Linked DNA regions of Homo sapiens: region 1 is linked to region 2. The links come from fine-mapping of genetic effects on plasma protein levels. A gene starts in region 2. The other region holds a variant in brackets. All regions are shown on one strand. Distances are from middle to middle. Region 1 overlaps CD244 (CD244 molecule). Region 2 holds the start of CD244 (CD244 molecule).

Evidence for each region. PIP is the chance, under the fine-mapping model, that this variant and not a neighbour inherited with it causes the effect. Protein levels are from antibody-based Olink assays in UK Biobank. Linkage for the fine-mapping came from a reference panel and not from the study's own genotypes, which makes the PIPs less certain.
Region 1: its variant is fine-mapped to the plasma level of the CD244 protein (UK Biobank, PIP above 0.99). The variant lies in the coding sequence of CD244. If it changes the protein, the assay may bind it differently, which can mimic a change of level.

The regions. Positions count from the first base shown.
Region 1 is chr1:160,838,502-160,842,499 of GRCh38, reverse strand. CD244 (CD244 molecule) reads left to right here. Exons shown (of 9, transcript NM_016382.4): 2 at 599-916; 3 at 1,015-1,290; 4 at 3,451-3,561; 5 at 3,982-3,998. Among named protein-coding and RNA genes, the nearest start is that of CD244, 22 kb to the left of the region's middle. The variant G/C (reference allele first, on the strand shown) is at 916.
Region 2 is chr1:160,857,968-160,866,437 of GRCh38, reverse strand. It overlaps CD244 (CD244 molecule), which reads left to right and starts at 3,551. Exons shown (of 9, transcript NM_016382.4): 1 at 3,551-3,821. The coding sequence starts at 3,761. RefSeq lists an enhancer at 3,686-3,735.

The DNA.
Region 1 (3,998 bases), 22 kb after region 2:
AGGGAGTCACCTTAGATGTGGTATTTATAGCATCATGGTTAAGAATTTATCCTCTCAAGCCAAACTGCTGTCTTTACAAAGAGTAAACAAATAAGCTCCCTAGCACCTGTGCTCCCAGCTACTAGGGAGGTTGAGATGGGAGGATCACCTCAAGCCCAGGAGTTCAAGGCTGCAGTGAGCTGTGATTGCGCCACTGCACTCCAGCCTGGGTGACAGAGTGAGACCCTGTCTCTAGAAAACAAAACAAAAGAAAACAAAAACATAACACCAAACTGACTAGGTTTCAGGCTCATCATTCTTTTAACTCATCATACCTTTTAACTTAAATAGTTAAAATGTATAAAGTGTGAAACCTGCCTGTCACATAGTAAGTACTCAAGATTTTAGCTATTGGTCTATGGGATCCCTCAGACTAGGGACACAGAGCTTGGGGACAAGGGGAGGCAGATGGAGGGGATATGCTTTAAGGTGCTCCTAGGTTCTGGGCTCCTCATACTCATCCCCACCCAATTGGCTTAAGGGAAGTCACATCCAGCTGCCCACATTGCTCAGGCCTGACACTCTTCCCGCTACTTTCAGCTTGGGTTCTCTTTCCTAGGATGCCAGGGATCAGCTGACCATGTGGTTAGCATCTCGGGAGTGCCTCTTCAGTTACAACCAAACAGCATACAGACGAAGGTTGACAGCATTGCATGGAAGAAGTTGCTGCCCTCACAAAATGGATTTCATCACATATTGAAGTGGGAGAATGGCTCTTTGCCTTCCAATACTTCCAATGATAGATTCAGTTTTATAGTCAAGAACTTGAGTCTTCTCATCAAGGCAGCTCAGCAGCAGGACAGTGGCCTCTACTGCCTGGAGGTCACCAGTATATCTGGAAAAGTTCAGACAGCCACGTTCCAGGTTTTTGTATTT[G/C]GTAAGTCTCCAGGACTGTTCATACTGCCCTCTCTGATTCCTATAGGCCTCTAAGTTCTGTATTTCCAATGCCTTTCTGATCAGAATCTCTGCTTCCAGATAAAGTTGAGAAACCCCGCCTACAGGGGCAGGGGAAGATCCTGGACAGAGGGAGATGCCAAGTGGCTCTGTCTTGCTTGGTCTCCAGGGATGGCAATGTGTCCTATGCTTGGTACAGAGGGAGCAAGCTGATCCAGACAGCAGGGAACCTCACCTACCTGGACGAGGAGGTTGACATTAATGGCACTCACACATATACCTGCAATGTCAGCAATCCTGTTAGCTGGGAAAGCCACACCCTGAATCTCACTCAGGACTGTCAGAATGCCCATCAGGGTAAGTGGAACACACTGGGCTATAACAAGCGCTGAAGGTTTGGACCCCGCAACCAGGCTCATGTGCAAGACAGATGTGGTATGAGATAAAATCCCTTGGCCTCCTCTCCCAGTGCCTTGTAGCCCTTCCCAGGGTAGCCCTGGCCTCCAGGCACACAGTTCCTGTAAAGCTAGGCCTATCCTACTCTGGAAAAAAATGTTATCCCTATTTCCTTCTGGGAGATGCAAGCTTTTCTTCTGCAGAGGGAGGGCATAGTTGTTTGGTGAGTGACAGTCCTGAAATGGCTCCTGAACATTATTTTCTTCCTGGGAGAGGCTGATGGAGAACTGTCCTCTCCTCTTGAGTGATAACTTTCTCCAAGCCACATAGTTCAAGAGGTAACTACACTGTGCAGCAGTAGCCTGGAGCAGGAGCATCAGGATGACCCCAGGGATACCTAGATGAGTTCTTGGGCTGTTGCTTATGCTCATCCTAAGAGTTACCTGAGTTACCGTTCCACAACTTTTTATTACATAAACAGGGACTTAATGTACCAGCAGCATGGGCATTATAGGAAAAAAAAACCATACAGCTCTCATTCATAAGGAACTTATAGCCAAATGGGGCAACAAAAATAACTACTTGTGGACAAAAAAGAAACAAGACTGAGGCAGGCCGGGCGCAGTGGCTCCCTGTAATCCCAGCACTTTGGGAGGCTGAGGTGGGTGGATCACAAGGTCAGGAGTTTGAGACCAGCCTGGCCAACATGGTGAAACCCTGTCTCTACTAAAAATACAAAAAATTAGCTGGGCGTGTTGGCGGGCACCTGTAATCTCAGCTACTCAGGAGGCTGAGGCAGGAGAATTGCTTGAACCCAGGAGGCGGAGGTTGCAGTGAGTCAAGATCATGCCACTGAACTAGGACACTGGCTTCATCATTCAGAAGCTCTGTGATCTCTTAGAGGTCAGGTGTGGTGGCTCACACATGTAATCCTAGCACTTTGGGAGGCTGAGGCAGGTGGATCACTTGAGTCCAGGTGTTTGAGACCAGCCTGGACAATATGGTGTAATCCCATCTCTATTTAAAAAAAAAAAAAAAAGAAGCTCTGTGATCTCTGGCAGATTCATTAACCTCTCTGAGCCTCAATTTTCTTCCCCCCTTGAGTAAAATGGGGGTGATAATAAGTACCTCACAGGATTGCTGTTAAGAGTAAATGAGATAATGTTTGCAAAGAGCCTTGTCAGCCCTTGGAACACTTAATTCCTTTTCCTTCCTCTTGTTGGCTGGATTATATATCAGGCTACATGTGTGACACAAATCTTTTAAGTAGAAGTTCAAATGAGGAAGAGCCATGAAGGAAGGAATAGTGGAAAAGTGAGACGGAAAACTTGCCTGTACAATGAGTATTTTTTGAGTTAAAAACAAAGGAATGGATAAATGTAACATTTGTTGTGCTACATGTCCCTCAGTATCCATGACGAATTAGTTCCAGGACCCACCTCGCAACCACAGATGCCAAGATCCACGAATGTTTAAGTCCCTGGCATAAACAGGTGCAGTTTTTGCATATAACCTATGCACACATCCTTCTGTATACCTTACTTAAGTCACCTCTAAATTAGTTATAATGCCTGATACAATGTAAATGCTATTTAAATAGTTGTTATACTGTATTGTTTAGGGAATAATGACAAGGAAAAAGGCCTCTACATATTCAATACACATGCATTTTTTTTCCCTGAATATTCTGGATCCACAATTCATTGAATCCACATTGTGGAACTCAAAACTTTGGAGGGCAACTGTATTAGATCATGTAATTAACCCCTATAGGTAGATAACGTTATCCCCTTTTACAGGTGAGAAAATCTAAGAGGCTCTGAGGCATCTTCCAAAAATAAGATGACTTGAGAGGCCCAGAGAGGTTAAATAAATAGTGCAGAGCTCACAGGGTTAGAATTTGAGCCAGGCCTGTCTGATATATCTATGCTCTTGGCATCACTCAGAGGAGGTTAACCAAATGAGCAAAGAGAAAACCTTGACCGTGAGTTCTCAGAGCACGAGGCAATCAGCCACAACACAGAGAAAAGTGGGTTTTGAGGCAGCCCCTGCAGCAGGCAGGTGGGAAGGAAGAAGAGAGCGAGCTGACAGCTCAGTTCTCACGCCTTCTGTATTCCTCAGAATTCAGATTTTGGCCGTTTTTGGTGATCATCGTGATTCTAAGCGCACTGTTCCTTGGCACCCTTGCCTGCTTCTGTGTGTGGAGGAGAAAGAGGAAGGAGAAGCAGTCAGGTGAGTGGAAGGTCCTTAGGGTGGTGCTCCTGCCTGAGGCCTTGGATCCTGTGACTTTGTCCTGCGTCCAGTGGGATGTGTCTGGGAGCACAGCATCTCCTTTTCCTCAACGAGCTTTGGTATGTTTGTGTGCGTGGTGGCGGGGGGCAAGCAGGTTGCTAGGCTCTCTCTCCCAGTTCATGCCTTCTGATCCCAATGCGCAGATTTCCCTGTAGACAGCTGGTTTGGGAGGAGGTGTGGGAGGGGCAGTTCGGTTGCTGCCTCTGTGCTCTTTGGGGTTCCTGGGAAGAGCATTAACTTGCCTCCTTTCTAGAACCTTTTTTAAGGTTTGGCCATTTGGGGTAGAGGTGGGACCTGTTAGAAGCAAAAGCCCTTCTGGAGGTTTCTGCAGCTCTGCTCTTTGTTTTCTTCCTCCCTCAGAGACCAGTCCCAAGGAA
Region 2 (8,470 bases):
CCTTGTTAGCATTGTCAATGCTTATAATGTGATTTATGGTGGGAGCTCTGACCACATAGCATCAACTCAATTTCTGGAGGGGCCAGAGACTATGGTCAGCCACATGGGTGGTCAGCCATGTCTATGTGAGCAAGTCCCAATAAAAATTCTGGACACCAAGACTTGGAAGAGCTTCCCTGCTTAACAATATTCTCTGTGTGTATTGTCACACATAGTTTCTGGGAGAAGTAGGCCCTGTCTGCACAGCTCCACTGGGAGAGGAGAACTGGAAGTGCTGTGACTGACTCCTTTGTTTGGGACTCTCCTGGACCTTGCCTTAGGTACCTCTTCCCTTGGCTCATTTTCATCTGTATTTTTTGCTTTAATAAACTCTAATATTACAGAAGTTATTTGTTGAATTCTTGCAAGATTGGTTGACTATACCTATAAGATCAGTTGGGTTCTTTGTGAAGGCTTGAGTAAAACATTTGTAAAACAGCTTTCAGTGAGTTTTGTGAGTCATTCTAGTTAATTATCAAACCTGAAGATGGTCTTGGGGACCTCAAACTTGCAATTTGTCTCAGAAATGGGTGGTCCTGGGGACTCATGAAATTTGTAGTTGGCATCAGAAGTGGGATTTACTGGAATGACCTTGACTCACCGAAGCTTGATGAAAGCATGGTTTGGGCAGGGGTTTATGAACCTTTGATTCCCAGATGGCCGCTAACCTTTAAATGCCCCTGTCTGAGTCCCCTGTCCCAGACTTATAAAGATCTCGTGAATATGTATGGGAAATGTAGCTAAGGGAGTCTCTGGTTTATATTGATTTTGTAGGTCTTGGGTCCTCGTGCTAAAGTGGCTGAGTTGCACAGAAGGACTCTCTGCACAAAAATTAGGAAGGGCAAGATAAAAACTCCACGAGGGCAGGGTCCATGGTGACTCAGCTAACCAGTCTATCTCAGGGGAAATAGAAATGTCTTCCTTAGAGAATTCATTCATTCCTTCAGCACTTGACAATCTACGAATCAACTCTGAAGAACCAGGCGCTGGGTGAGGCTTGGAAACACTAAGCTAAGGAGAGCATAGACTTTGTGTTGAAGAGCTCAGGGCTGGGGAGGTCAGTGTGTAGAACAAATGGCAGGTTGTTTTTTTTTTTTATTATTGTTGTTTGTTTGTTTGTTTTTGCTCTTGTTGCCCAAGCTGGAATGCAATGGCGTGATTTCGGCTCACTGCAACCTCCTTTTCCTGGGTTCAAATGATTCTCCTGCCTCAGCCTCCTAAGTAGCTGGGATTACAGGCATGCAACACCACACCTGGCTTATTTTTTGCATTTTTAGTAAAAACGGGGTTTCACCATGTTAGCCAGGTTGGTCTCAAACTCCTAACCTCAGGTAATCCACCCACCTAGGCCTCCCAAAGTGCTGGGATTACAGGTGTGAGTCACTGCGCCCAGCACCTTTTTTTTTTTTTTTTTTTTTGTGACAGAGTCTTGCTCTGTCTCCCAGGCTGGAGTGCAGAGGCACAATCTCAGCTCACTGCAACCTCTGCCTCCCAGGTTCAAAGGAGTCTCCTGCCTCAGCCTCCCGAGTAGCTGGGATTACAGGCACACACCACCACACCCGGCTAATTTTTGTATTTTTAGTAGAGATGAGGTTTCACCGTGTTGGCCAGGCTGATATCGAACCCCTGACCTCAAGTGATCCACCTGCCTTGGCCTCCCAAAGTGCTGGGATTATAGGCATGAGCCACTGCGATCAGCCTACAAATAGCAGATATTGTGTGATAGAGTTTGTCAGGGACCACAAGACAGACACACACTCAGTGGTACAGCTGCTCCGAGTTCTGTTTCCAGGGGATGATAGGTCATCCACATGCCTGGTGGGAAGGATGGAGCTGGTGTTGGGGTCAGGATTGGAGAGGCTGATTCCTAATTCACATTCATTAGTGGGTTCCAACAGCTGGATCTTGTTTTCCACCTGTCGTGTGAGGAAGTTTACCCTTCTTTGTTATATCATGTCTTGTGCACCACTTCTCAAGGTTAAGGACATGGCCAGATCAACTCTGAAGAAATTCCCCAGGGTTGAGGGCTGCCCCTTGGGAGCAGACAAAGGAGAGAAGAGATGATAACCATTAGACCCGCTGGAAAAAGCTATTCAGAGCTTAAAAAAATGAAAACAAAACCACAAAAACCTCATCTATGTCCAGTGTTTTTTGTGTGCATATTCTGGAGTATCATTTTTAATTTGATCCTGAAAACTGCCTTGTGAAGGTGGGGAGGATGTATTGTTGACCCTACAGGCTCAGACAGCAACAAGGCCAGAATCACATAGGTTGTAAGTTGCTGAATGGGAGCTGCAAGTCCAAGTCTTTGACTCTAAATCCAGCGCTCTGTCCAGAGCCCCGCTGCTGCCTCTGTTGGCAGCTGAAGCTGTCAGTCTGCTGCCCCCTGCCCAGTTCAGACAGGGTGGCTGGAAATGGACCAAAGGATGGAAAAAGAGAATAAGAGCGGACTTGAAGGGAACTGAAAGTATTTGTTAAGGGGAAAGCAGAAGGAAGAAAGAAAGAGGCATGAACCCTGGGGCCTGGCCTTGAAGCACAGTGTTCCAGGGGAGGGGGGATGCCGCTGTCCCCACCCCTCCATGGGGGCCTAAGCAGATCCAGAGCTGCCTGGCCTTCCTGGAGGGTGGCGTCCAAGCATGGATGGGAAGGCAGCAAAAATAGGCCCATGTCACTTCTGGGAGAAGACAAAAGAGGGAAGAGAGGACTACTATAGAAAAGTAGAAAAAGAGGAAGGGAGGGAATCTAGGCATACAGATCGGAAATGTGGAGCAAAACAAAATTTTTTTTTTTTTTTTTGAGACACAGTGTCGCTCTGTCACCTAGGCTGGAGTGCAGTGGCGTGATCTTGGCTTACCGCAACCTCCACCTCCTTTGCTCAAGTGATTCCCCTGCCTCAGCCTCCCAAGTAGCTTGGATTACAGGTGCACGCCACCCAGCCTGGCTAATTTCTCTATTTTTAGTAGAGGTGGGGATTCACCATATTGGCCAGGCTAGTCTCGATCTCCTGATCTCAAGTGATCTGCCTGCTTCAGTCTCCCAAAGTGTTGGGATTACAGGCGTGAGCCACTGTGCCCCGTGTGAAACAAATTCTTATGAAACAAATTTAATTTACATGTGCTTAAACTTTGGTGTCAACTTGCATGGAATCCCCAGGCTTGCTAGATTTTTCTAGTGCCTCCAGCCCTTAGGTCTCTTCCTATGTTCTCTCAGCTACTCCTCCTTTCCTTCAACACTGTTAGCCGCTTATCCAGGGCCCTACGTTTCAGCCCACTCCTCCTCCAGCCCCTCTCCACTCCACCTCCACAATGTCTGTTGGAATGGAACAGTTGGGGATACTGGCTGTTTGGCCCCCATGGGGGTCTCTCCATATAGGATTCAGAGAATTGGAAGACTTCTTGGGCTGAAGCAGAGAACGGGATGCAATTTTGAAACTGGCTTTGTGAGTCACTGTGAACTTCAAGCACCCTCCCACTTGAGGTAAGCTTCACCAGTTTGGCTTGTGGGAACTGTCAGACCAGCTCCAGGCGCTGGGGCTTTCTCAGTGGCCTTGTCAGCTCACAGCAGGCGTTAACAGCCTCTAATTGAGGAAACTGTGGCTGGACAGGTTGCAAGGCAGTTCTGCTCCCCATCGTCCTCTTGCTGACTGGGGACTGCTGAGCCCGTGCACGGCAGAGAGTCTGGTGGGGTGGAGGGGCTGGCCTGGCCCCTCTGTCCTGTGGAAATGCTGGGGCAAGTGGTCACCCTCATACTCCTCCTGCTCCTCAAGGTGTATCAGGGCAAAGGTAAGGAGGTCCTACCTGGCGTGGGGCGAGGGAGGGACTAGGAGCTGTGCCCCTCAGGGAGATCAGAGCCAGAGCCTCTGCTTGTGCCACATACACAGTCATCTGGAACTTGACTCCGAGCAGCTCCTGACAGCTCTGACAGTCTAAATCAGACAGGACAGGCTGGCAGTGCACTGGGAGGTCTGTGAGAGGGGTATCTGGCCCTGCCACCAGCAATCCAGGAAGTCTTGGGTGAGGAGATTCCTTCCCACTGGCTTCAATTTACCCTTCCGTGTAGTGGAGAGAGAAGCCTCCTTCCAGCCGCCTGTAAAGATGATGAAAATTGCATCCTCCAATTGTGGCATGAGAGAAGAGAAGCAGTCCCAAGGAAGTGGGTGGTTCTCGAGCTCAGAGACAGATGGATGGACCCCTGAGGCAGGAAAGCTGAGCCCAGGGAGGGGAGGGCGAGGCCAGCAGCCAGGAAGAAGCTGGAAGGCATGGTCCCTCATCTCCCCGGCTTCTTCAGCCATCCAGATGCCACAGGAGCCTGGAAATTATTAGGGACATGCAGGGTTGGGGCAGAAGAAGGAGACAATATGAGGAAGCTCCACAGCAAACCTAAAGCTGTCAGCCAGGCATGGAGCCATCTAACATTTACTCCTGGGGATCCCAGCTGAGGGCTGCTCCCCTCTTTCTCCAGTTCTGGGGTCCAGGATGCTCTGAAACCTGGATCCCGCATTTAATTTAATTGAATTAATTTATTTATTTCATTTTTAATTTTTATTTATTTATTTATTTTTTGAGACAGAGTCTCCTTCTGTCACCCAGGCTGGAGTGCAGTGGCGTGATCTTGGCTCACTACAAACTCTGCCTCCCGGGTTCAAGTGATTCTCATGCCTCAGCCTCCCGAGTAGGTGAAATTACAGACGTGCGCCACCATGCTTGGCTAATTTTTGTATTTTTAGTAGAGACCAGGTTTCACCATGTTGGCCAGGCTGGTCTTGAACTCCTGACCTCAGGTGATCTGCCCACCTTGGTCTCCCCCATCCAAAGTGCTGGGATTACAGGTGTGAGCCACCATGCCCAGCCAGGGTTCTGCATTTTAGATCAGTGACTCTGCAGGGGCTTCACGGAGGTGGAGAGCGTGGAATTAGAGGAGGGTACACTCTGGGCACAAAGAGGGGAAACTGAGGCATAGTGTTGTGTGGGTTCAGGGCCAGGTAGAAGCCCCATATGCAATAAAGTCCCATGCCCAGGTACTCAATTCAGTTACCGAGTCCCTGAGCATTCTTGTGTCCTTCAGGAAGACACAGTCAAGGCTCAGGTGGACTCAACATTTGTAAGGATGCAGGCAGCCTAGGGCAGAGCATGATGAGGAACAGGGAGCAGGGAGGGAGGAGTGGAGCCTGCAGCTCTTGTGGGTGGGTTGGGGGGCCTAGTGGCCCAGGATTCTAGGCAGGAGAGCTAGGTTGGAACCTGGTCTAAGGATCCTTGAATGCAGCTCAGACAGCCGAAGGAGGACTGATGGGATTGGTGCCTGGCTGTGGGGATGAGAGTAACAGAGAAGCTGAGGTTATGACCCTGAGGTCATGAGCCTGTGTGACAGAGGGCAATGCTCCCTCCACCCCCATTCCCAGGGCTTCAGCACCATAGCTGGGCTTGGCTATGCCGGCCCTTGCACGGTGAAGCTGGTGAGTGACTTGTTAGGCACAGGGAGGGATGGACTTGGGTCTTCCTGAGCTGCTTCCTCCTCCATCCTGTGTCTATAGGGCAGGCCTGGCATAAGTTGACTGAAGCTGCTCTATTTCTTTAATTTTTAAGCTTTTTAGTTTGAAATAATTGTGAAGTTCCAGGGAAGCTGCAAGAATAGTTCAAACGATTCTTGAATTTCTTTCATCTAGATTCACCAATTAACATTTTATCACATTTACTTTATTTCTCTTTCTCTAGCTGTATGTATATGTGTGTATAAATGTACAATAATTTTTGCTGAACCACTTGAGAACAAGTTGTGACATTATGTCCCCTTACTCCTAAATATTTTAGCACTTATATCCTATGAACAAAGACATTCTCATGTTACTACAGCACAATTGTCAAATTCAGTAAATTTAACATTAATACCATCAAATATGCTTTCCATATTCACATATTACCAATTGTCCCAAGAATATGCTTTATTTTTTTTTTTTGCTGACCCAAGATGCAATCAAGATCATGTATTACATTCAGTTGTTATGTTTCTCATGTTCAGTCTATGACCATACTTTAACCTTTCTTCATCTTTCATGATATTGCATTCTTGAAGAAGACAAGCCAGTTGTTTTGTAGAGGGTTCCTTAATCTGGGTTTGTCTGATGTTCCCTCATATGATTCAGGTTATCATATGCATTTTTATTTATTTTATATCATCATTATTATTATTTTTTAGAGATGGAGTCTCGCTCTGTGGCCTGGGCTGGAGTACAGTGGTCCAATCTCGGCTCACTGCAACTTCTGCTCCCCCGGGTTCAAGTGATTGTCCTGCCTCAGCCTCCCGAGTAGCTGGGACTACAGATGCATGCCACCAAGCCTGGCTAATTTTTGTATTTTTGGTGGAGACAGGGTTTCACCATGTTGGCCAGGCTGGTCTTAAACTCCTGACCTCAAGTGATCCACCCACCTCCGCCTCTCAAAAGTGCTGGGATACCAGGTGTGAGCCACTGTGCCCGGCCTATTATTATTTTTCAAGAGAGGATCTGGTTCTTTCACCCAGACTGGAGTGCAGTGGCATGCTCACGGCTCACTGTAGCCTCGACCTCGCAGGCTCAAGCCATCCTCCCACCTCAGCCTCCCTGGTAGCTGGAACTAGAGGTCTGTGCCACCATGCCTGGCTAATTTTTTTTTTTTTTTTTGTAGATACAGGGTTTCCCCATGTTGCCCAGGGTGGTCTTGAACTCCCGGGCTCAGGCGATCCACCTGCCTCAGTCTCCCAAAGTGGTGGGACTACAAGTGTGAGCCATCATGCCTAGCCATCATATGCATTTTTAAAATTATTTTTTCTTTAAAAAAATTTTTTTCTGTGCCCATTGACAGCAGATATTATATGCATTTTTGACAGGAATACCACAAAAGTGATACTGTGTCTTTTTCAGCGCATCCCATCAGGAGTCATATGATGACAGTGAAATTTAAAAAACCACTTTGTTTACTGAATAATTTAACAGGAGTACTATTTATGTAAGATGTGCATATAACTCTTGAGCATTGCGAAATTCTTCCAAAGACTTCTTCTTTCATGCAGAGTAAAAGCCATGCATTTTACAATGGTGCGTGACCTGGCGTCCAAGACCCACTCCTCTTTGTCTCTCCTCTTGCTCACAGCATTTCAGCCATGTTGCCTGCTGGTCCTGGACCTCGCTCTCTGTTGTATCCACAGTTTTCTCTGCCTGGGATGCTGCTCCTTTGCTGGCTACATGGCCTCTTCCCTCAACCCCTCAGAGTTTTGCTCAAATACCTCCTTTTCAGTGATGCCTTCCCCACTGAAAATGTCAGCCTGCCATTCTGCAAACTCTTAGCTCTCTCTCCACTTAATTTTTCTCCATAGTCCTCATCTCCATTTATGTTCCATCCTGTTTACTTATGTTTTTCATTTTCTGTCTCCCAGTCTCCTCTTCAGCCCCCTAGACTGTAAGATCCTTGAGGCCAGGGCTTTTGTCTGTTTTGCTCACCGTTGTCTCCTCAACATCTAGAGCAGTACCTGCCACAAGTCAACCCTCAGTAGATACTTATTTTCACAATAGCAGCCCCCTCTCTGTTCCCATTCTTTCTCTGGATATATTTTGAATAGCTCTGAACCAGGGCTATTGAGGATTCAGTGGCAAGTAAGTCCAGGGCCCGTTTGTTCAGAGAGCTTGCGCTAGATTGCCTGAGTCACTGTTACTACAGTTGTGATTAGTGCCTGGTGCAGTGCCAATGCAGTAGGTGTTCAAAACATGTTTGTTGAGTGAATAAGTGAATTATTTTCAGGCATCTTAACGGGCAGCCTGGGATGTTTTTTGGGTTAGACATATTGGGAAGGAGGGATCTTCAAATCATTGCCCAGGGAATAGGCCTGGGCCCTAAAATTCATTTTAGACCCAAAATTCAGGTTTCAGTTGTCCGTTCTGAGGAAACCCCAAAGGACACACAGGCTGGAGGCTATGAATCCCCAGATGCTTTACAGCCTGAGTTGAGATCTGCTGGACAATAAAAGGGCACAGGTGACACCTTATAGATTAGCTCCAAGGGTTGCCAGCTGTTTGCGTAGATTGTGTTGGAACTGTCACTTCTCAGGGAGTGGTGTCTAACTGCGACTGCTTTGGCTGGGATCCAGGCAAGCTGTAGAAGGGCTGGAGTCGTTTTTGCTCTTCTCTTCCTCATTGCACCTCCCCTCCAACAAAGGGTGAATGGCAAAGTAGCTGGACACAGAAAAGAGATTGGAATTCAATGTACCCTGGGCTACAGCACCATCCAGAAAGGAATCCACTGAAATCACTTCAAGGAGAGACAGGGCATGTCTTGTTTTTTTTTTTAATTTTTTATTTTTATTTATTTATTTTTATTTTTTTGTGAGACAGGGTCTTGCTCTATCACCCAGGCTGGAGTGCAGTGATGTGATCACAGCTCACTGTAGCCTTGACCTCCTGGGC